2 separate regions of the Homo sapiens genome follow, and region 2 is linked to region 1. A link means that fine-mapping ties the variant in region 1 to the expression of a gene that starts in the linked region. Tissue or cell type: whole blood. Region 1 holds a variant in brackets; the other region holds the start of a gene. All regions are shown on one strand. Distances are from middle to middle.

Region 1 (11,443 bases):
GTACAGGAAATTTCAAACTGTTAAGTGTCAGCAGAGAAGAGGGCCCCAGGCCCTCATGTAAGTCAGAGCAGCCCCATTAATATTAGTTTTATACACTGGAGTTCTGCCTAAGATGTCATTTGAGGAAAAGGCTCTGCTCTAGCACTGGACTAAAACTGATGTTTCTGCCACTGCTGCAATGGCTAGGGGGAAAACAACCAACCAACAACAACAAAAACACATGGTTTGGGGTTTTCTTCCTTCATTAAAAAAAAAAAAAAGCAGAACTGCCTGTAAATAAAATGATTCCGTTCCAACACTTTCTGCAGACTGTAAACAATCCTGAGTTGGTATCAATATAAATAGAAGAAAAAATGCTTTAAATGATCCACTAAACGACACCTATGTATTGCTTTGAACCCCTAGTTATTTACAAGCTTCATTGTTTTCTATTTTCCCGTGTCTGCTACCTAAATCATCTCTGCCGTATTACCTATATAATTAGAGGACCCTTAGTCACCATGTGGTTGGCTTTCACAAAGAATAAAAGCCAAAGACCTGGATCTTGGCAGTTTTAGAATTTATACATTTTTCTTTTGCCCTCCAATTTTTACATATTTGATTCAAACATTTATTGAACAACTATATTGAGCGAACATTTGTTGACCAAAATTATAATCTAACACATTAATCAGAATCAGTGAAGCTGTGCTACAGTAACATCAATCACAAAAGCTCAATGGCTTTGATACAACAAAAATTTATTTTTCACTAATTTCAAATGTCCAATTCAGGTTGGTAAGGGAGATGTGATCATGACAGTGCCTCAGGAGTCCAGGCTCCCCTTGATACATGCTTCCAGGCTCCACTTGATACATGCTTCCAAGGTTGCCTTGCCAAAGGTGAAAGAAAACGTGGCAAATCACATTCTGTTCTTTAACTTCCACTCACATTTTACTGGTTACAAAAAGGCACGTGGCCATGCCCGACATTAAGAATTAAAGGAAAGGGCAATTCAATGATTATTTTATGAAGAATCATGACTCCCTAGTCCCCTGCTGTCAAATATTTATTCTTCCCACATGAAAAAATACACCTGTCCCTCCATTCAGAAGGTAACCCAAATATCCCATCCAGTCTCAGCATCAAGATCAAAGGACAGGATCTGCGCTGATGGGGAAATCACCTCTATATCAAGTCCAGATGCAGCCCCTCTTCACAGAGACCTATTTATTAAAACAAGTTATCTACTTCCCTTCACACACACAATACACACTGACAGAATATAAAAAATGCTCCAGTTCAAAAGAAGAAAAGAAGACAACAGTCAGTAGTTCATAGCAATTCATAAGCCAGGCTGAACAGATTGTGCAAGGGCTCTCTGTCCTGGAAGGTGGGGAATGCTCTGACTGACCCTTGGGAGGAGTTTCTAAGTCTGCTGTTCTCTGTGCCTCTAGGTTCTGCCTTCTGGAAGGTTTTTCCTGGTCTGTTATCTTCTAACGCTACAAGTGAAGTGAGCATCAGAGAGTGTGACTCCTTAGCAGAGCAGAATTCTCAGCAGGCAGATAGGTCAGGGAGGTATGGGGCAGAGAGCAAGATCATTATGTATCAAGCAGTTATACTTTATTCAGACTTTTGTCTATGCCTCTCCCTGAAAAAATTAGAAGGCTTATCTATTTGATTCTATCCAATTCCAAGCGCCAATGTCCAGAACCAAAGCTTTTTTCTAAGATATGCCTCTTAGATTTACTACTTTTCTTTGCTTTCTTGCCCCATGAGACAGTGTGTCTATTTCTCTCTAACTATGGGTACCTTGAGTTTACCTGGCTTTAGCAGGGGTTCCATACCTTTAGTCTCTTTTCCCTAACCCAACTGAAAAGCAATTCCCTCTCAAGTTGGCCTTTACTCTGAATTACCTTAATCCTTTCAGACATTTTAACAATGGAAGTGATGGTCATAACCCTGACTGGATCCTACCAAAAGGATGAATTTTAATTATCTACTCAAAAGCCTTTTCAGTTGTGTCTCCTACTGATTGGAGGTAAGAAGCAACTACTGGTCAGGCACAGTCGCTCATCCCAGTACTTTGGGAGGCCAAGGTGGGAGGATTGCTTGAGCCCAGGAATTTGAGACTAGCCTGGGTAACACAGGGAGACTGCCTCTAATTTAATTAAAAAGAAAAAAAAAGGTGCAGCAGTAATTGCTTCTTCTAATCCTACAAATTCCCAAATTTCTGGACTCTGTATTGCTTTTCATTCATACTTGCAAACTAACCAATTATTTTCTAGCTCATCTCTTTCTTATAACACCTTGTCAAATGAAACCAGTACCAGTTAAAATACAATTTGTTTTCCAACCTTGTCCCAAAAGCTTCAAATGCATTAAATATATTACTTGCCTTCCAAGTTACTGCACGTTAAGTTTTATATAATAATATTGTTCTCTGCATCGTCATGTTTCTAGCATCTAACATCAGTTTCCTTGCTGCCTGATCCTCAGGCCAATGCCACAGTTGAAGTTTTTTGTTAGAGCATACTATTCCTTGTATAAATTTTGACTTAAGTGATGATAGGCTGTAATAATATAGGTGCTGTCTAATAGAAATACAATGCAAGCCACGTACGTTAACTTCAAATTTTCTAACAGCCACATTAAAAAAGTAAAACTCAAAGGTAAAATTAACTTTAATATATTTCATTTAACCTAATATAGACATACCTCAGAAACACTACAAATTTGATTCCAGACAAGTACAATAAAGCTAATATTGCAATTAACCAAGCCACACATTTTTTTGGTTTCCCAGTACATATGTTTATACTATACTGCAGTCTATTAAGTGTGCAACAGCATTATGTCTAAAAAAACAAAAAGTACATTAATTTAAAAAAACTTTACAGCTAAAAAATGCTAACAATCATCTGAGCCTTCAGTAAATCGTAATCTTTTTGCTGGTGGAGGGTCTTGCCTCAAAGTCAATTGCTGCTGACTGATCAAGATGGTGGTTGCTGGCTAGGCGCGGTGGTTCACATCTGTAATTCCAGCACTTTGGGATGCCAAGGCGAGCAGATCACTTGAGGTCAGGAGTTCGAGACCAGCCTGGCATTTTTGTTGTTGTTGTTTTTGAGATGGAGTCTCGCTCTGTTTCCCAGGCTGGAGTGCAGTGGTGCAATCTCGGCTCACTGCAACCTCCACCTCCCGGGTTCAAGCGATTCTTCTGCCTCAGCCTCCCGAGTAGCTAGGACTACAGGTGTGCGCCATCATGCCCGGCTAATTTTTGTATTTTCAGTAGAGATGGGGTTTCACCATATTGGCCAGGCTGGTCTTCAACTCCTGACCACGTGATCCTCCCACCTCGGCCTCCCAAAGTGCTGGGGTTACAGGTGTGAGCCACCACGCCCAGCCGGAAAATCTGTTGTTTAGTGTGGCCATTTTCATCAATGATCTTAGCTTCCGGATAACTTCTTGCAGCTTCTACATCAGCACTTGCAGCCTTGTCTTTATGTTATGGAAACAGTTTCTTTCCTTAAACCTCATGGACCAGTATTCTGCTAACTTCCAACTCTTTCTGCAGCTTCCTCACCTCTATCAGCATTCACAGAATTGAAGAGTTAGGGGCCTTGCTCTGGATTAGGCTTTGGTTTAAAGGAATGTTGTGGCTGGTATATCTGGCCAGACCACTAAAATTTTCTCCATATCAGCAATGAGACTGTTTTGCTTTCTTATCACGTGTTCACTGGACTAGGACTTTTAATTTCCTTCAAGAACTTTTCCTTTGCATTCACAACGTGGCTGTGTGGCACAAGAGGCCCAGCTTCTGGTCTATCTGGGCTTTCAATATGCTTTCCTCACTAAGCTTAATTATTTCTAAGCTTTTGACTTAAAGTGAGATATGTGCAATTCTTCCTTTCACTTGAACACTTAGAGGCTACTGTAGGGTTATTATCAATTTGCCTAGTTTTTTCTTTTTCTTGAGACAGAGTTTTGCTCTTTTGCCCAGGCTGGAGTACAATGGCGTGATCTCAGCTCACTGCAACATCTGCCTCCTGGGTTCAAGCAATTGTTCTGCCTCAGCCTCCCAAGTGGCTGGGATTACAGGCGCCTGCCATCACGCCCGGCTAATTTTTGTATTTTCTGTAGAGATGGGTTTCACCATGTTGGCCAGGCTGCACTTGAACCCCTGACCTCAACTGATCCGCCCATCTCGGCCTCCCAAAGTGCTGGGATTACAGGAGTGAGCCACCGTGCCTGGAACTGGCCTAGTTTCAATATTGTTGTGTCTCAGGGAGGAGGGAGGCCCGAGGAGAAAGATGAGGAAACGGCTGGTCGTTGCAACAGTCAGAACATACAACCTTTATATCAATTAAGTTCACCTTCTATGGGTGCATGGTCTGTTGTGCCCCAAGACAATTACAACAGTAACATCAAAGACCACTGATTACGGATCACTGTTAAGAAGTATAATAATAATGAAGGTCGGGCGCAGTGGCTCACGCCTGTAATCCCAGCACTTTGGGAGGCCAAGGCAGGTGGATCACGAGGTCAGGAGATTGAGACCATCCTGGCTGACACGGTGAAACCCCGTCTCTACTAAAAATACAAAACATTAGCCAGGCTTGGCGGTGGGGTCCTGTAGTCCCAGCTACTCGGGAGGCTGAGGCAGGAGAATGGCCTGAATCCCAGAGGCAGAGCTTGCAGTGAGCCAATATAGCACCACTGCACTCCAGGCCTGGGCGACAGTACGAGACTGTCTCAAAAACAAAAATAAAAAATAATAATGAAAAGGTTTGAAATATTCCAAGAATTGCCAAAATGTGACACAGGGACACAAAGTGATCACGTTCTGATGGAAAAATGGGGTCAACAGACTTGCTCAAATGCGAGGTTGCCACATTCTTCATTTTTTTTTAAGTAGTATCTGTGAAGCACAATAAGATAAAGCATGCCTATATATCCAAAGAATTAAATTTCAATCTTTTATCAATAATACAAATTATTCATGAAATGTTTTACATTCTATTTTTTATACTAAAACTTGAAAATTCAATTTGTATTTTATTACACTTACAGCACATCTCAATTCAGTCTAGCCACATTTCGAGTGCTTAATAGCATCACAGGGCTAATGGCTCCCCTATATAACAGAGCAGGGCAAAATTAAGTTGCAGTAACAACCCCTCAAATCACAGTGGCTTAAAACAAAGGTCTATTTTTTATTCACATCCATCATAAGTCAGCTGATGCTGCTTTCCTGACTTATGAATCAATGTTAATGGATCAATCACCATGACGTATTTCATTGGCCAAAGCAAGCTCCATGGCTACACCCAACTTCGGTGTGCCCATGAAGAGAACCAGAAATATTAGGAAGACAGTACAAATGACTAACATTTATAAAACTTTATATATATATATATATATATATATATATATATAAAAGTTATAAAGTAACATTTATAAAATCACAATTTAAAACTTTCAAACCGTTTTCAATAAATTCTACCTTTATTTTCCTTTTGCTCTGATATAACCCTGCTTCAAAAAGCAAATGAAATGATAAAGTGGTAGAGCTATACTACTTGAATAAACTACTTCCATTAACTAGATAAAACAGTAAATCTAAGACAAATAAAATTTCTTTACCATGGAACATCATTTGCCCTTCAACGAAATTCCTGAAGATTTAATAAAAGCAAATGAAAAGCGGAAATAAGAGTTGGATGTGGTGGTGTACATCTGTAGTCCCAGTTACTTGGAGGCAGAGGTGGGAGGATAGCTTGAGCCCAGGTGTTCAAGACCAGCCTAGGCAACATAGTGAGACCCCATCATTACAAAAAATTAAAACATAAAAAAATTAGCAAGGCACAGTGCGGGGCACCTGTAGTCCCACCTACTCAGGTGGCTAACACAGTAGGATCACATGAGCCCAGGAGTTTGAGGCTGCAGTGAGCTATAATCATACCCCTGTAATCCAGTCTGAGTGAGAGAGAACTTGTCTCTAAAAAAAAAAAAGAGCAAACACTTAATTGATTAGAATGGGAAAAAAAGCAAAAATGGAAACAGACATCAAATACCATTTTTTAAATTCATTTTGGCCATCAAGTACTTTAAATCCTCTTTAAAACTTTCTTACCAAGTCTTTTTGAGTGGTTACTGCTGTTGAAACAAGTATAGGCTGAAAGAAAATTAAACAGGAGTGAAAAAA[C/A]CAATTTATTTATAAAAAGTAGGGAGAAAGCAGGAAATAAATGACATAATGTTAATCAAAACTAAAGATATTTTCACCAATTTTCAAAAAGATTTCCTTACACCCTTTAAAGTTAACTTTCTGCCATTTATTAACACTGTAACAAAAAAGTCAATTGCCAGGCCTGTAACTCCGGCACTTCAGGAGGGAGACAGGAGGATTACCCAAGGCCAGGGGTTCAAGACCAGCCTGAGCAACACAGCAAGACCCCATCACTATAAAACATAAAAAGTAAAAAAAAAAATTAAATCAGCACTCTACTTATTTATCAACAAATATAAGGTATTACCTTCAAGGTCAAAAGCTTTGCTTTTACAGTTCTAAGGCTGAAACTCCTTTCTTCTAAAAATAAATACATTCTATTCCATCTTCACTTAAACATTCAAGAAAGAATTTTGGCATATAAGAGGATCCAAGGTAATGAATGGCTGAATTACATGAAGTAATGGGAATTAAATACTTTAAGTGGTAGAAAATAAAAAAGCATCACAAAGAAGGTCTTATGTAAATATAGCAGCAAATTTTGCTTAGGGAATAAGTGTACTGATATGTCGACTGGTATCAGATACCAGCAATTAATTCTTTCTTCCAAAACCTGTTTTAAAGTCGATGTTCTAGGCCAGGTGCAGTGACTCATGCCTGTAATTGGAGGCCGAGGCGGGAGAACTGACTGAGCCCAGGAGGTTCGGGGCTGCAGTAAGCTATGATTATGCCACTGTACTCCAGCCTGGGTGAGACAGTGAGACCCTGTTTCCAAAAATCATAAAGCTGGGTGTTCTAACTTATTAATGATCAGTCCAGGTTAAAAGAAGCTAACTTTTAAATAAAGCAGAGGTTATCACCTCTGCTAGAACTATCTAGAACTGACAGACAATCCATGTAGATGCTTTCCTGATGGAAAATAGTAAGACAAAACCAAAACCCAACCAACAAAACAATCAAAACCAAACTATCTGAGTGCAAACTAAACTTTACAATGCCAAATGTCAGGGGAAAGAGAAATCCTGTTTTCCTGTCACCCAAAGAAATATATTACCCACTAAAACTTTATTATCCTAAAAGAGTATCTCAGAAATGGTAGAAAATGTACACACTTCCTGCACGTTTTATGGTCCACACTCCACCATCCCCAAAATTTCCCAAAACATCTTCCTTTTTATAATTCCCCTGCTCAGTTTTATCAACTCTCCTGACTTCAACTGTGTCTATCAACCATCTCCTACAGAATTCCATTCCTTTGTCCTAGGCTCAGCCCTCCATCTCTACTAGCAACAATTATTTCAACCACAAATTCAATCCATTCCAACTAGTGTCATCTTGGAGTCCCCAGATCAGTTTTCCCCTCACAAACGTGCCAATGATATAACTTTAAAACAACGGATTCATCTCTTGTATTCCTGATAGCTAATCACCAACGGATTCATCTCTTGTATTCCTGATAGCTAATCACCAATCCTATAAAATTCATACTTTGAAATGTCTGGCATTCTTCCTTCCTTCCTTACTTTCTCCCTGTTTAAATAAAGTAGCCCCTTTTACCTTTTTTGTTTTTTTGGTTTTCTTTTGAAACGGAGTCCCGCTCTGTCACCCAGGCTGGAGAGCAGTGGCACAATGTCAGCTCACTGCAACCTATGCCTCCTGGGTTCAAGCAATTCTGTCTCAGCCTCCTGAGTTGCTCGGACTACAAGCACACGCCACCACACCTGGCTAATTTTTTTCTATTTTTAGTAGAGACAGGGTTTCACCATATTGGTCAGGCTGCTCTTGACCTCAGGTGATCCACCTGCCTTGGCCTCCTAAAGTGCTGGGATTACAGGTGTGAACCACCATGCCTGGCCCCGCTCCTACCTTCTTTAGTGCTAGTTTCTTCCCATTCCACTCTGTTCTGAAGGTTATGTCTTCCAAGCATTGATTTATTCACGTTATTCCTCTGTTCAAAAACTTTCAAAGGCTCCTTAAGTAAGGTTAAAAATAGTGCAACCCTCACCAATAGTATTCAGTGCTTTTCATTCTCTCACCATACTTATTCAAATGTGTCCTATCAGCCACCAGTCACCAAACTGCCCAGATTTCTATTCATGCTATAACAGCATTTCCCAAAGTAGTTCCTCACAAGTAACCCAATGAAATACTAATCAATACAGATGTATAATCTAAAAAAGAAAAAAATGCTGCTTCCTTTCCTTAAATAGGTTTATTTCCCACAGGATTTCTCAGAAACTTTAACATGCTAATAAGCATTTTTATAACATTTAATAATACCTATTAATATCTTACGAACCATTTTTGGAGAAACACTTTGCCTTGCCTCTATTCTTACCTTTTTTTTTTTTAAACCTTGTTAGTAAACATCTTCCTCTCATCTCTCTACCTATACAAATCTAGATTCCCCATTAAACTTCTCTCTTCTCTATTAGGTCTCCTGGAGCCTTTTTTGATTTTCTGTTCCTCTGAACTTCTACACAGTTATCTGTATCATGCAATTTAGTGACTTACTATATTGATTTATATTGCAGATCACACACTGATTTATATTGTTGATTACTACTCCATGTATCTATCTTAAATACTCCAATAAATCTGTAAGCTTCTTGAGAAAATGAACACATACATACTTCTACAGACAATACAAAAAAAGCACACAGTTGACTATTTACATTTTCACAGTAAGAAACTTGTTCACCCGCTCTCTCAAGTTCTTGAGCCTTTATTAACCCTGTGCCCAAACAAGGCTGCCAAATGAAAGCAGCAAAGACATTTATTAAAAATTTATCTGACTTTCCCCTTCATATGCAAGAAAAACCAAGAACACTTCCACTGCAGTTTAGTGTGACTGGTTATCCCCTGAAATTTATCAACTACCTTCTTCATTAACACAAGAGATAATGCAGGGAAATAGCCTAAACAGTCAAAACTTCATCTTCAAGGCTTTCACAACAGAACCATAAAATCCTCTTCCACTTGTGAATCAAGTAAGTATACAAACCCTGCCCAAGCTGTTACTATGAACAAAGCTTACTAACTCAAACATCACAGGAGATGTTGGAACCAAAATTAAAGTCCAATCTTACTTTATGTTAAATTTCTTGAAAAAAAATTTTTAAATAATTCTGATGCTCACTAAAGTCCGAGAAAAAAATGTTTAAAAAGAAGTTTTAAAATATTTTTTAATCCAAATTTTCTACTCATTAAAAACATGAGGCTAAAACTCACATTCTCAAAACCTTTTTACTCTAGAAAATCTCCAATATATACCAAAGTAGGAAAGCATAACAAACTCCCATGTACCCAACACCCAAATTCCACAAACTCTGGGACAATTCTATTTCATGTATAACCCAAACTACCTCATTTTGAAACAAATCCGAGATATAACATTTCATCTGCAAATATTTCATTATGTACTGCTCAAAGATAAAGAACTTACAAAAAATCTCTCATCATGTTATTCTTAGAATAAAAATACACTAAATCTACAGTGTTAAAAAATGACTTTAGGGCAAGTCATTTAATTCTCCTAAATTCTCTCATATGCACGTAAGACTAAACCTAACGTTCCTCTTGCTTCTCTTAGTTTCTTCCCCCACAGGTTTATATGTTGGCTTCTGAAACATAATTCTTAATGTCAAGAGTTTTTAAAAAGCTACAAATTTAACACAATTACAGAATTGGTAGAGGTATGAAACACAGAATGCAACTATCACATCTGAACAAAGTTATAATCCCAGCACTTTGGGAGGCCAAGGAGGGTGGATCACCTGAGGTCAGAAGTTCAAGACCAGCCTAGTCAACATGGTGAAACCCTGTCTCTGCTAAATATACAAAAATTAGCCGGGCGTGGTGGTGGGCGCCTGTAATCCCAGCTACTCGGGAGAGGCTGAGGCAGGAGAATCACTTGAACCTAAGAGGCAGAGGTTGCAGTGAGCCGAGATAGTGCCATTGTGCTCCCGTCTGGGCAACAAGAGCGAAACTTTGCCTCAAAAAAAAAAAAAAAAAAAAAAAGCAACCAAACAGGTAAAATTTACATTACACATTTCCACACAAATCTACGTTTATTCTGTATCTATTATTGGCATCTCTTCATTTTATCCATCAAAAAAAAGAATGCAGAAAAAAAAAAGATGAGTAAGCAATGACTGCCCAATCCCAAAACAAGAAATACATGTTAGCTATAATACAAGACAAAGGACAAGTGCTATTAAACAAGCGGTAATTCAAAGGTGGCAAGAAGAAGGGAAGGCTGCGGGATAAGGCAGTATCTGGGCTAAGTCTTGAAAGATGTCAACCTGAAGGTTACTCCACTATTCCTGTTTCTAAAGTGCTGTGGGGTTCAATGTTAATATACCATTTATCACATTATACTAGAATCATGTGCATGTCTGTCTAACCCAATGATTCTTAAGGGGGAGATGAAGAACTGTCCTCCAGGGGACATCTGGCAATGTGTGAAGCCATTTTTTTTATTATCACAACTGCCTGGGGTACAGAGTGCTACCAGCATCTAGTGGGTAAGTCAGGAATGCTCCTCAACATCCTACAATGCAGAGGACAGCCCCAAAACAAAGAATCATCAGGCCCAAAATATCAACAGTGCAGAGGTTGAGAAATCATAGTCTAACTTGTTAGATTATGAGCACCTTTAGTGCAAGAATTATCATATTCATCTTTGTAATTCCAGTATCTGGCATGCACAGCAAGAGCGCTGTAAGTTATCTGTAGACTCAACAGACCTCAATTTAAAGGTAATGGAAGAGCCAGTAAAGACTTTACAGAAAGCAACATGATCTGTGTTTAGGGAAAATGACTGATACCAAAATGATGTATTGGAACAGTTTCTAGTATCTTACAAAATTTAAAATGCACATATTCTCCAACCTTGGGATTGTGCTTTCAGATGTATATGCTTCAGATATGCATACTTTAACAAAAGAAATGACACATCTGTATAAGGATATCTACTGCAGCATTTTTGAAATAAGATTAAAAATTTTTGTGACATCTGGCCAGGCACGGTGGCTCATGCCTGTAATCCCAGCACTTTGGGAGGCCGAGGCAGGTAGATCACCTGAGGTCAGGAGTTTGATAACAGCCTGGCCAACATGGTGAAACACTGTCTCTACTAAAAATACAAAAAATTAGCCAGGTGTGGTGGCATGGGCCTGTAGTCCCAGCTACTCAGGAGGCTGAGGCAGGAAGATCACTTGAGCCAGAGAGGCGGAA
Region 2 (11,443 bases), 32 kb after region 1:
CCAAATTAAGGAACACTAAATTTACAACCTAAACCAAAGATCAAGCAATCACTTTCATAATAGTCACTTATTTTAGGCCAGGCGCAGTGGCTTACGCCTGTAATCCCAGCACTTTGGGAGGCCAAGGTGGGCAGATCATGAGGTCAGGAGATCGAGACCATCCTGGCTAACACGGTGAAACCCTGTCTCCACTAAAAATACAAAAAAAAAAAATTAGCCGGGCATGGTGGCACACGCCTGTCGTCCCAGTTACTCGGGAGGCTGAGGCAGGAGAATGCTGTGAACCCAGGAAGCAGAGCCTGCAGTGAGCCGAGATCGCGCCACTGCACTCCAGTCTGGGCGACAGAGTGAGACTCTGTCTCAAAAAAATAAAAATAAAAATAAAAGTCACTTATTTTATTCCACTAAAGTAAAAATGAAGTAAATTAATAATCCACAAGTTCACATAAATGCAAACTGGTCAAAGTTAATACTTGCACAAAGGTCTACTTTTTTCTATTTCCTGGTTTACTACTAAAATTAGCCACAACTTAAGTACAAAGGAGCGTTGCTATAAAACCATCTTTCAGAGTCCATGTTGTACGACATTATATACGAGACTGCTTTATGACTAGACTTCTTCAGCAATGTACTGTGGGTAACCAAACACCCTTGGCTAGGATCCTCTTTTATGACAAATTCCAAATTCAAAATCCAAATATTAAAAGCAATCTTCAGCACAGTTGATTGGCTTTTCAAGGCCCTTTTAATCTCAAAATACCAAGCTAAACTGGCATAAAGTTCATCTGTATGTGTATATTTCCACTTGTTTAAACACAACAATATATATGCAATGTGGAATCCTGGACTGGATCCCAGAAGAGAAAATGGACATTAGTGGAAAAGCTGGTGAAACGCAAACAAAGTCTGGTTAGTAATGTCATACCAATGTTCATGTCTTAATTTGGACAAATGTATCATCATTATCCTAACATTAGGGGAAGCTGGATGAAGGGTATGAGATTACTCAGTTCTGTATTTCCAACTTTTCTATAAATTTAAAATTATTCCAAAATACAATTATTTAAAAACACAGCTATAACCTCTCATAATTCCCAGTCATTTGAGTAATAAAAGATTATCTAAGCCCATGAACTCATGTGAATTTCCTTTTCTAAGATGTGCTGAAAAGATGTCTTAAGTTCATATTTGCACTGGAAAAATAAATTTTTAGCAAATTTTCTATTTGCTAAGGCAAATACACACAAGCCAGTCTTACCAATTTTACTCAAAGTGAAAAATCTTGGGTGCAGGTACCAGACATCATAAATATATGGTTTGGGTTTTTTTTTTTTTTTTTTTTTTTTTAGGCAAAACTATTTTCATTTTACTATGATTGGCAAATTATGATGTATTTGATTGATAAATCTCAGATTTATCAGATTGATTCTAGTTCGTCTTCATGTGGCAGAATATGTGTTGTCAGGAGTGATTTGGTAATTCAGAAAAGCAGCTGAAGAAGCATGGAAACTTCCCTACAAGTATATGGCCACAGCTGGCTAAGGTTGGAGACAGTATTCTATCCTTGGGCCTCAGACTCACATATGTATGTACATACACATATTATTCACCCATATTTCCTTCCTTCTCCCCTCCCCCATCTGTAAACTGATATCTAAACTTTACAAATTACAGTTACAAGAAAAGTTTTGTTCCATTTGAAATACAAAAAAGATCAGGAGAAGCAATCTGCTTTTTAATTTTACTTATGCAGTAGTTTTTTAAGATACAGTCAATTTGTTTTGGCACTTTGGAACTAGAGGGATACAGTTCATAAAAAAATCTACCAACTCTCAGCGAAGCTGAAATGAGGTGAACAGAAGGCGTACCAATCCATAAATGTATTTAAAAATAACAAAGCCTAATATAATTTTACATTTTTACATGTTAATCTGCTTATGAAAAAACAAGACATTAAAACTATTCACATCCCCTATAACGAAGCACTAAAATTACAAATTATTTACCAGTAATAGCTTAACATTGGTTTAACTTAAAAAAAAAAAATACCTGGACATACTAAGCATTTGTTGTAGACTATACCAAATACCAAACTTCTGTCTTCAGTGACTATTGAAAGTATCACTCCACAAATCAATTCCTATGATCCACCACACACACACACTCAAATGAGGGTTTTCATTATTTTAATAGGTGAACAAATCTACACAACAGTGATGACCCAAATGTAAAATTCACAATTAACAGTCTAAAAACTGTTCCTATCCTATTGGTATTAACCCCTCATATAACACAGGCGAGCTCCTCCCCTTGCCCAGACACTGAAAACACTACAGAAAGAATCCCACCATATCTTACCTGACTAGCAGTCGTAATAAAATGAAAACATACTTTTGCCAACCAAATTCAGCTATAAGTATTGTACTACTAGTATGCACGTAAATACAATTCCTTACACATACTTTTCTAACACTGTTATATTCAGTTTCAAAATCTAAAGTACTATCTAAGCAACTTGCTGATTTCAAAGGCTGCTAAATGTTTCATTTACCCCCCTTACAAAAAAAAAGTCACTGCAAATTTTAGTAGTCTGCAAAAACTAAAATTCAACGATTTTGAATGGTCAACTAAAAAAGCAGTCTTCACTCCTGCATACAAAAGGGTAATTCAAAGAATAAACCCTCATTTTTTTTAATAATGTATGATTTAAAGCAGTAAGATCCTGTAACGTCCAACAGAAAATGCTCCAGGTTCAAAAATAATAAAAACTAAAGACATTGCCTCTAGTTGATACTATCTATGGCCGATAGGCTGTGCTTGAAAATTTTGTAGTGTTAAGCGAAGGAGTTTTCAGCACTGATATGAATTGCTCAAACATCCATTTTGGAGTCCTCTACCCCCGCCCTCTCAGACTTCATTTTGTGAAGATTTTGCGCGAGGTGCTGCAGTGACAATTTCGAGAAAGCCTGGGCTGGCTTCAGATCCAAACCGGGATGCGAAAGAGCAGGAAAGGGCGCCCTGGAGCCCAGCGGCCCGTGCGGGTCGGGGGAAGCGCGGGCGCCGGGGAGGCCTTTTGGGCAGGCGCGCCACGGGTCCGGGATGGCGGGCGCCCGGCCTCGGCGGGGGCGGGCCGCGCGCGGGACTTACCGCTCCGGCGGCGGCGGGGGCCCCGGCTGCGGCGGCCGCCTCCTCCTCGTCGTCGCCCGGCGATGGCGGCCCTATCTTGCTGCAGGTAGCGGCCAGCAGAGCGAGCGGTGACGGCTGAGTGTCCTACCCCCAATGGGCGGGTTCAGAGAGGGAGACAGGGGGAGGGGGTGGCGGTTAGGGTCGGGCCGCCTTTCGCACAGGAAGTACGACTCGGTCCCCGCCGACTGCGCCCGGGCAAGCGCCAGCCCGCGCTCTCCTCCTCCTCCTCCTCCTCCTCCTGGTCCCGCCGCCAGCCCACGCCTGGCGTCCCCCGCTCCAAGCACCCCGGCTCCCCGGTCCGCGGGCAGGCGGGCGGCGGGCTGCGCGCCGGGCCTCCGCCTTCCGCCCGGAACCCACCCCCGGGAGGGCACGCTGGGGCCCACACTCACACGCGCACAAAAAGGCGGCAGGCGGGCGAGGCGGGGCGGCGCGGGCGGGGTCGGAGCGTTGGCGCCTCGGGCGGGCAGCTCCCGGGGCGGGGGGAGGGGAGTGGAGGGGAGGGGAGAGACGAGGAGGGAGGGGTGAGGCGAGGAGGGAGGGGAGAGGCGAGGGGAGGAGAAAGCGGCGCGAGGGGGGAGCCGGGCCGGGGTTCAGCCGCTCCTCACCTGGGCCGCCGCTGCCGCCGCCACCGCACCGTTTCCGTGCTGTTGCTGCTGCTGCAGATACTCGCCGTGGCCGCCGCCGCCGCCACCGCCGCCGCCGCTATCCACGTCCAAGGCAGCCATTTCCTCTTGTTTCACGGGCTTTTCGGGAGCTGCAGGCACAGCGCGGGGGGGTGGGGGTGGGGAGGAAGGCGGGTGGCGGAGAGGGAGGGGGCCCGCGGGCCGAAGCGAAATTACTCCCAAAGCCCGGACCCAGGCCCCTTCCCCTCCCCCACCCGCCCCCCGGCGGCGGCGGCGGCGGCGGCTCCCTCCTCCCCTCCTGCTGCTGCCCCCGCCCGCCGCTGCCTGTAACCCTCCTCCTCCTCCTCTTTCCCTCCTCCTCCTCCTCCCCGCGCTGCCCCTGCCCCCTCTCCTCTCCTCCCCTTTCCCTTCGCGCCGCTCGCTCTCACTCGCGCTCGCTCCTCTCGCACCGTCAGTCACTCACACACGCCCGCCCGCGCCCGCACACAGGGGGATGCGCTCCCGGCGGACCGGGCCGCCCGCCCCGGGGCCTGGCGGGGAGACGGCGTTGCTGGGGCTTCGGGGGTGGACGGTGGCTGGCGGGGAGGGGAGGGAGGCGCAGGGGAGTGCAGCTTTCTGCCTCTCACAGACACTCGGTCGCACACACGGGGCCGAGACCGGCGGCAGCGGCCCCGGGCTGGCTGTGGTCGGCGGCAGCGGCGGCGGCGGCAGCAGCAAGGGTTGCTCTCTCGGCTTTACGTACCGGTCATAGTGTGTTTAGGGCACCTCAGGCGGGGCTCCCCGCCGCCTTACACATGGTGAGGAGCGAAGGCGGCGGCGGCGGGAGAGGATGCGGGAAGCGGCGGCGGACACGGCCGGAGCGGTCCGGGGATTTTTTTTTCCTATTTTGATTGACTGTGCGGGAAACACAAAAGGTGGAGCCTCCAGCCCAAAAGGGGGGAAGAGGGTGACAGCCCGCCCGGAACTCCCGCCCCTCTTCTTGGCTCTCATTCGCCGCCGTGCTCTTTGTCGGCTGTGCTCATTGGTCCAGGCGCCTGTCCGTCGGTCTGCCAGGCGGCGCGCTTCCTGTTTGCCCCCGGGTGGAAGGGGAGAGACAATGAGCGGCCGTGGCAGCGTAGGTTTTCGAGAGCGGCTACGGCTCGCCGGTTACCCCGCTGTGCCCGCCTCCCTCGCCGGCTGCCGCTGCCAGGCCCGAGGCGCAGGCCTCCTCCACCTTGCAGGCGCTCGGAGCAGGCCTAGCCAAGCTGTAGGGGAGCTGAGCTGGGGAGGAAATTCGTCCCCGGTGACTCCTGCTCCACTGGACGCTTCCTCCATCCCGGCAGCAGTCTTGGCCGGATCTCCCCAGGGCCTCGCGCTCTTGGAGCCGCCGCTTCCCTGCGCTGCCAGGAGGCCACCGCTGCTCAGCCCCGGGGCTGCTGCTGCGGCCGCTGCCGCTACTGAGCAAACCAGACCCGCCCCACGAGCCCGGGGGGAGGGAGCTGGTATTAGGGGAGACACCCCCTCCGAGGCTGGAGGAGGATTTTTCTCTCTCACATCCAGCTTCCTGATTCAGTCACAGCCATCTCGCTCCCAGCCCCCTTAGCCCCAGTTTTCCAACCGGTCTCCCACTTTCACGTACCCTGAAGGCAGGCATTTAAAGCAAAAAAGAAATCTCAAGTCACCTCACATACGGAAGGAGAGTTTTAATTTTGGCCAGTGGCACCAAAACGGGCACTTAAAAGTATATTTCATTTTACTTGTGGTATGTGTATGTATTCAGTGGGGCAGAATTCTGTGTTTTAAAAAATCGGTCACATAACCATTTTGCTGCACAAACGTATTATTCCCGGCCTCTTTATCCTCTTGGTACCAAGTCAGATATCTCCTGAAATAAGCCCATCAACCACTGCCAACGTTTTTTAAAGTCGTGAACCGGTGAACTACCTTTTTTCCCCCATTGGAACATTTTTGTTGTATTTTAAAATCTTGTTTCTCTTACTGGATTAGGTTAACACTCCTTCCTTCTTTGGCATCCTTGGTATCTTGCTGTCATCCTGGGGGAAAATGCTCAGGTTTTAAGTGTGTGTTTTGCCAACTAAGAGACATCTCTCCCTGTTACCTTCAAGTATAGTTGCCAAGAAAGAAGTTAAATTCAAGAGGTGGAAACACTGTCCACAATACCTGTTTTTTAGAAATCTGGCTCAAGATTCAGTTTTCCCATTACTGTGATTATTATATTTTGTGTGATATGTGATGTGCTGGTGGATGAGGTTGTGAAGTCCAAGCACTTTAACCAGATTTTGTGTGTCCTAACTTAATAGGTAATCCATTTGTGAGATACTGAGTTTACATCCCAGTTCCAAAGCACTTAACCGCCTATGCTGACAGGATCAGAAACATTGTATGGTTACTTTGCTCTTAATTGTACAAAGATCAAATTTCCAGGGAATTAACCTAAAAACCACAAACATGCGGAAACGAGACTCAAAATTCTGAGTCCAAGAATAGGGTTCATCTCTTCTAATAGTCCTTGTAGTCTCATATTTAAGTGGAAAAGTCACTTTCAAAGTTGAGTCGTATAACCTATGTACTATTTTACAACAAAAACTTTTAAGGAAATAAAAGTCACAAAATAACCTGATTTGGGGTGGGGAAAATGGAAAAAGAGATGGGTGCCTTGAAGAGCGGGACAGGTGAAAATAAGTGGACTGGGAGGGAGGAAGGGAAGTCACTATTATCACTCTGTTCCTACCCGGATCTCTTGGGTGGAAGGTAGCTCTTTCCCTAGAAAGGATATTTCAGGCATTTTCAGTTTTGTTTTGTTTTTTTTTTCAGGAGTGGGGATATGTTCTACGCTATCGCCATACCCTTTTTGCAAAGTGTTAGTCCAGCCACCTTGAGAGCAAAGTACTTGGCCACAGGAGTTAAATTCGTTTCTTCATTGATACCAATTGGCAAATGATATGAGACATGAATTGTCTTTTTTCTTTCTTTTTTGGGGGGTGGGGACGGCACGTCCGCAGACCATTTTGACAAGCAAAAAAAACACTTCTGAAAAAGAAAAAAATAGCCTAGCTGAGCGTGGTGGCTCACACCTGTAATCCCAGCACTTTGGGAGGCCAAGGCAGGCAGATCACTTGAGGTCAGAAGTTCGAGACCAGCCTGATTGCCATGGTGAAACCCCATCTCTACTTGAAATACAAAAATTAGCCAGGCTTGGTGGCGCACACGTGTAATCCCAGCTACTCAGGAGACTGAGACGGGAGAATCACTTGAACCTGGGAGGTGGAGGTTGCAGTGAGCCGAGATGGCACCACTGCGCTCCAGCAAGACTGAGACTGTCCCAAAAAAAAAAACCTACCTGAACTAACTATACTGCTTTTGATGCGATGCTTTTAAGAGATACATATGGAGGTAGGGTGACAGAGGTTGGTTAATTGGTACAAACATACAGTTAGATAGAAGGAATAAGTTCTAGTGTTCAATAGCACAGTAGGGTGACTATAGTAAATAGCAATATATTTTATATTCCAAAATAACTGGAAGGGAAGATTTGAAATGTTCCCAACACAAGAAATGACAAATGTTCAAGGTGACAGGGGAGAGGGGGCGGAAAAAAAATGTCCAAAGTGATAGATACCCTAAACACTCTGATTTGATCATTACAACACTGTATGCATGTATCAAAATACCACATGTACCCCATAAATATGTACAAATATGTATCCGTTTTTTAAATTTTTTAACAAAAGATGCATATACCAAAAGCATCACTCACTACTTTAGTCAGATTCAGAGAACCCTCTTAGACCACACTTGAGTTATTGTCATGGAATAGCTTTTTAAAATGGCTGGAAATGAAGATAGTCTCTTGAAAGAACACCTTTTCCTACCTATTTCAGTATTGTAGTCAAATCTTGAAATACAAATTTTTTTTTTCAATGGCATGGTCTCGGCTCACTGCAACCTCCGCCTCCCGGCTTCAAGTGATTCTCCTGCCTCAGCCTCCCCAGTAGCTGGGATCACGTAGCGCCCGCCAGCATGCCTGGCTAAGTTTTGTATTTTTAGTAAAGACAGGGTTTCACCATGTTGGCCAGGCTGGTCTTGAACTGCCGACCTTGTGATCCGCCCGCCTCTGCCTCCTAAAGTGCTGGGATTACAGGCATGAGCCCGGCCGAAATACAATTTAATTAAAATACTTATTTTCTTATTAGAAAGCTGCCTCTCAATGGCACCTACTGCTACATTTACATAGTAACCCAAAATTGCAGTTGCTTAGCAGGGAGAGAATCACAGTGCTGGATATTATTTATACTTTTTCTTCCAAAACGATTTGAGGAAGTACTGTGCTGGCCATTGTTTACATCATATTAGGAGATCTGGATGTCACTTTCTTTTCCCATATCCTCGATTTCCTCACTTTTTAAAATGTCATGTGTTTTTGTAAGTTTTCTTAAATCCTTTGGAAATGTGATGACGGTGAAAAATCCCTGAAGGCTTCTATACACCTGTTGGCATGGAATATTTTGCAACCCGTTTCTTCCCTACAAACAGAAGAGACAACTAAATACGGTTTGATCTACATCTGCAAGAGCCTAGCCATTCAGTATTAAAAAGTGATGGCCCTGGTTGACGGTACCACACCTGAAGACCTATGCCCTTTCCTTCACACTCCCTACTTCTGCATTTCTTCCCTCCTGAACGTCTATCAAGTGGACCATATGAAATTGCCAGTATTCAACTGTTTTTTATCTTAAAAGGTGACAATTCTATATCATTCAACCTAAATTAATGTCTCAAGAACATAACCTTTGTTTCTATTATTGTGACCTTACTTTTAACCATCCTAGAGCTCTTTAACCTGTTCACACTGGATTTCAAGGATCTTAAGTTGTTCTACTACATAATCACTATCACACTTCAGAAACATTTTAGTTTACATTAAATACACTTAACCCCCTCATATTTCATCTCTTCCTTTCTCAAAAATAGTAATAAATAACCTCAAGCCATTAAAGTGTGATGTCCTTAAATGAGGAGCAACAACCTTCAGCATGGAGTGTATTCATACTTTATGATTCAATTAGATAATAGAATTTGTTTATTTTCTTTGGTCATATAAACCAGACATAAACAACAACTAATCTCAAAAGAGTCAATGATACCCAAAGCCTAGTTAGAGAAGGTAAGAGAAAGGGGAAAAAAAAAATGATGTGGTTAGGAGAAGGTTGGATAGAACTGTAGAAAATATTGAAGGCAGCTTTTACCTGCTTTAAGGAACAGAATTTTTCGAGTTCCCCCTAAAATGGCTGAGTGCTGCACCATGTCATCACTCCATTCCAACCAAACAGCTGGAATAAAAAATGCAATTATACACACACATATATATGTATAATCTATACACACATAAGTATATATGTATAATATATGCATTAATATATAAACAGAACAATCCATAATTAATTAAAAGAGATGACCATCATGGATAAATCTCAATACTGTGTGAAAAAAGCCTGGTTATAGAAGAATAAATGTTATGCTACTACTGTATTTATATAAAGTTTTTAAATGTACCAAATTATATTCTATACTATATATGGATATATACATATGTAGTAACACTGTAATTGCAAAGGAATGGTGTGCTAAATTTAAAACGGTGATTACCCTTGGTATGAAGAGGAGAATGGCATTTGAATGAGTTTCCCATGGGCTTTGTTTACATTTGCAAATTTAACTTAAGCTAGGCTGAGTGTATTATTATTGTATTCTCTATATTGTTCTCCTTGCCTGAAATACTATGAGCATTATTTTAAACTAGAAAAAAAAAAAAGTAACTGATAGGAGAAGTACTGCAGTAAGTATGCCCAGGTAACTGATCAAAGGGCTGGAGGCAAAAGAGAATGATTCAAATATACTAAGTTTCCCAGCTTTTAGTAACTGGAAAGATGAACTGAAGTAAAGGATCTTAAAAGGGCATGAGTAAGTGGTGGGCCATTATGAGTTTGTTCTTAGATGTGCTGAGCTGGAGGTGCTAGCAGGACTTCCATGAGATGGATAGCCAACAGACTGTTGTCAAATTGAGTTTAGAGCCACAGAGAGAAGCAAGGGCAGGCTTGGGTTTGGGGACTCTTACCATCTTCACAGGCCTTTGTCCATTTGTCTTCAAACATAGCTATGTTTGAAGATAAACATTCCTTCCTATCTTTAAAAATCCTCCATGTGACTGTGGTTGTCCCTAGCTACTATCTTTTTTCTTTCCTCCCTTTCCTTGTCCAAAGTCTCAGTAACTTGCTGTCTTCCTACTGCCTTCCTAATATAATTCTACACCCAATTTCAGCATTTGACACTGTAAATATTTCCTTCTTAACACTCTCCCCTCCCTTGAACATTATCAGCTTTCTGGTTTTCTCTCAAATATATATTTCTCTGTATCTTTACAGTGCAGTCCCATAAAAAGCTACCTGTGGTGATGGAAATATTCTTTGTGTGCACTGCCTATTACCATAGCCACTAACCACATGTGACCATTAGGAACTTGGAAATGTGGCTAGTATGACTGAAGAACTGAAGGTTTTTTTATTTTAATTAAAGTTAAATGTGAATGGCCACATGTGGCTAGTGGCTATCAGACAGTGCTGCTTTAGGGTTTCTTTTGTTTTTGGTTCCCCGAGCTTTTCTTCAGAAGCTGGAAACACAGCATTCTGCAATGTCAGCCCTCATCTCCAAACTCACTCCCAAATCTCTATCTCCTGTCACCTGAGTTCTTGTTCTATATCCTTTTTTTTTTTTTTAAAGACAAAATTTCACTCTTGTCGCCCAGGGTGGAGTGCACTGGCATGATCTCAGCTCACTGCAACCTCCACCTCCTGGGTTCAAGCGATTCTCCTGCCTCAGCCTCCGGAGTAGCTGGGACCACAGGTGCACGCCACCATGCCCAGCTAATTTTTTTTGCATTTTTAGTAGAGACGGGGTTTCGTCATGTTGCCTAGGCTGGTCTCAAACTCCTGACTGCAAATGATCCACCCGCCTCGGCCTCCCAAAGTGCTGGGATTACAGGTGTGAGCCGCTGCACCCGGCCATGTTCTATATGTTTAAGCACTGTGAATTCCTCTTGAATGTCTCACTTTCACCTCAAACTCAGAATGTTCAAAACTAAACTCATAACTTTCTCTACACAACCAGCTCCTCCTCCCCTCTGATGCTTCTGTCTGTGACAGTGAGGCCATCATTCTCTCAGAAGCCCATACGGGAAATTACCTTTGACACATCTCCTCCCTTCCCTCTCCCATAGGCAGCCACTTACCAGATGCTGCCTGCCAAGTTTTCCTGCAGACACTCTCAGCTACCTGTTCATTGAAATCACATTTATTGAACCCTGCTCTACAAGATGCTGCATGGTCCCTATCCTCAAGGAGTGGATATCCAGTTAAGAAACAAAATATAGGGCTGGGCACGGTGGCTCACACCGGTAATCCCAGCACCTTGGGAGGCCAAGGCGGGTGGATTGGGAGGCCGAGGCAGATGGATCACGAGGTCAAGAGATGGAGACCGTATTGGCTAACACAGTGAAACCCCGTCTCTACTAAAAATACAAAAAAATTAGCTGGGCATGGTGGCGGGCACCTGTAGTCCCAGCTACTCAGGAGGCTGAG

Evidence for each region.
Region 2: SP3 starts here. The variant in region 1 is fine-mapped to the expression of SP3 in whole blood (TOPMed, PIP 0.91).

The regions. Positions count from the first base shown.
Region 1 is chr2:173,928,258-173,939,700 of GRCh38, forward strand. The region is part of intron 4 of SP3 (Sp3 transcription factor); the gene reads right to left. Among named protein-coding and RNA genes, the nearest start is that of SP3, 31 kb to the right of the region's middle. The variant C/A (reference allele first, on the strand shown) is at 6,185.
Region 2 is chr2:173,960,614-173,972,056 of GRCh38, forward strand. SP3 (Sp3 transcription factor) reads right to left here and starts at 4,760. Exons shown (of 7, transcript NM_003111.5): 1 at 4,552-4,760; 2 at 3,792-3,940; 3 at 3,148-3,270. The coding sequence starts at 4,558. RefSeq lists enhancers at 2,451-3,274, 3,275-4,097 and silencers at 2,958-3,207, 3,338-3,827, 4,158-4,437, 4,938-5,007.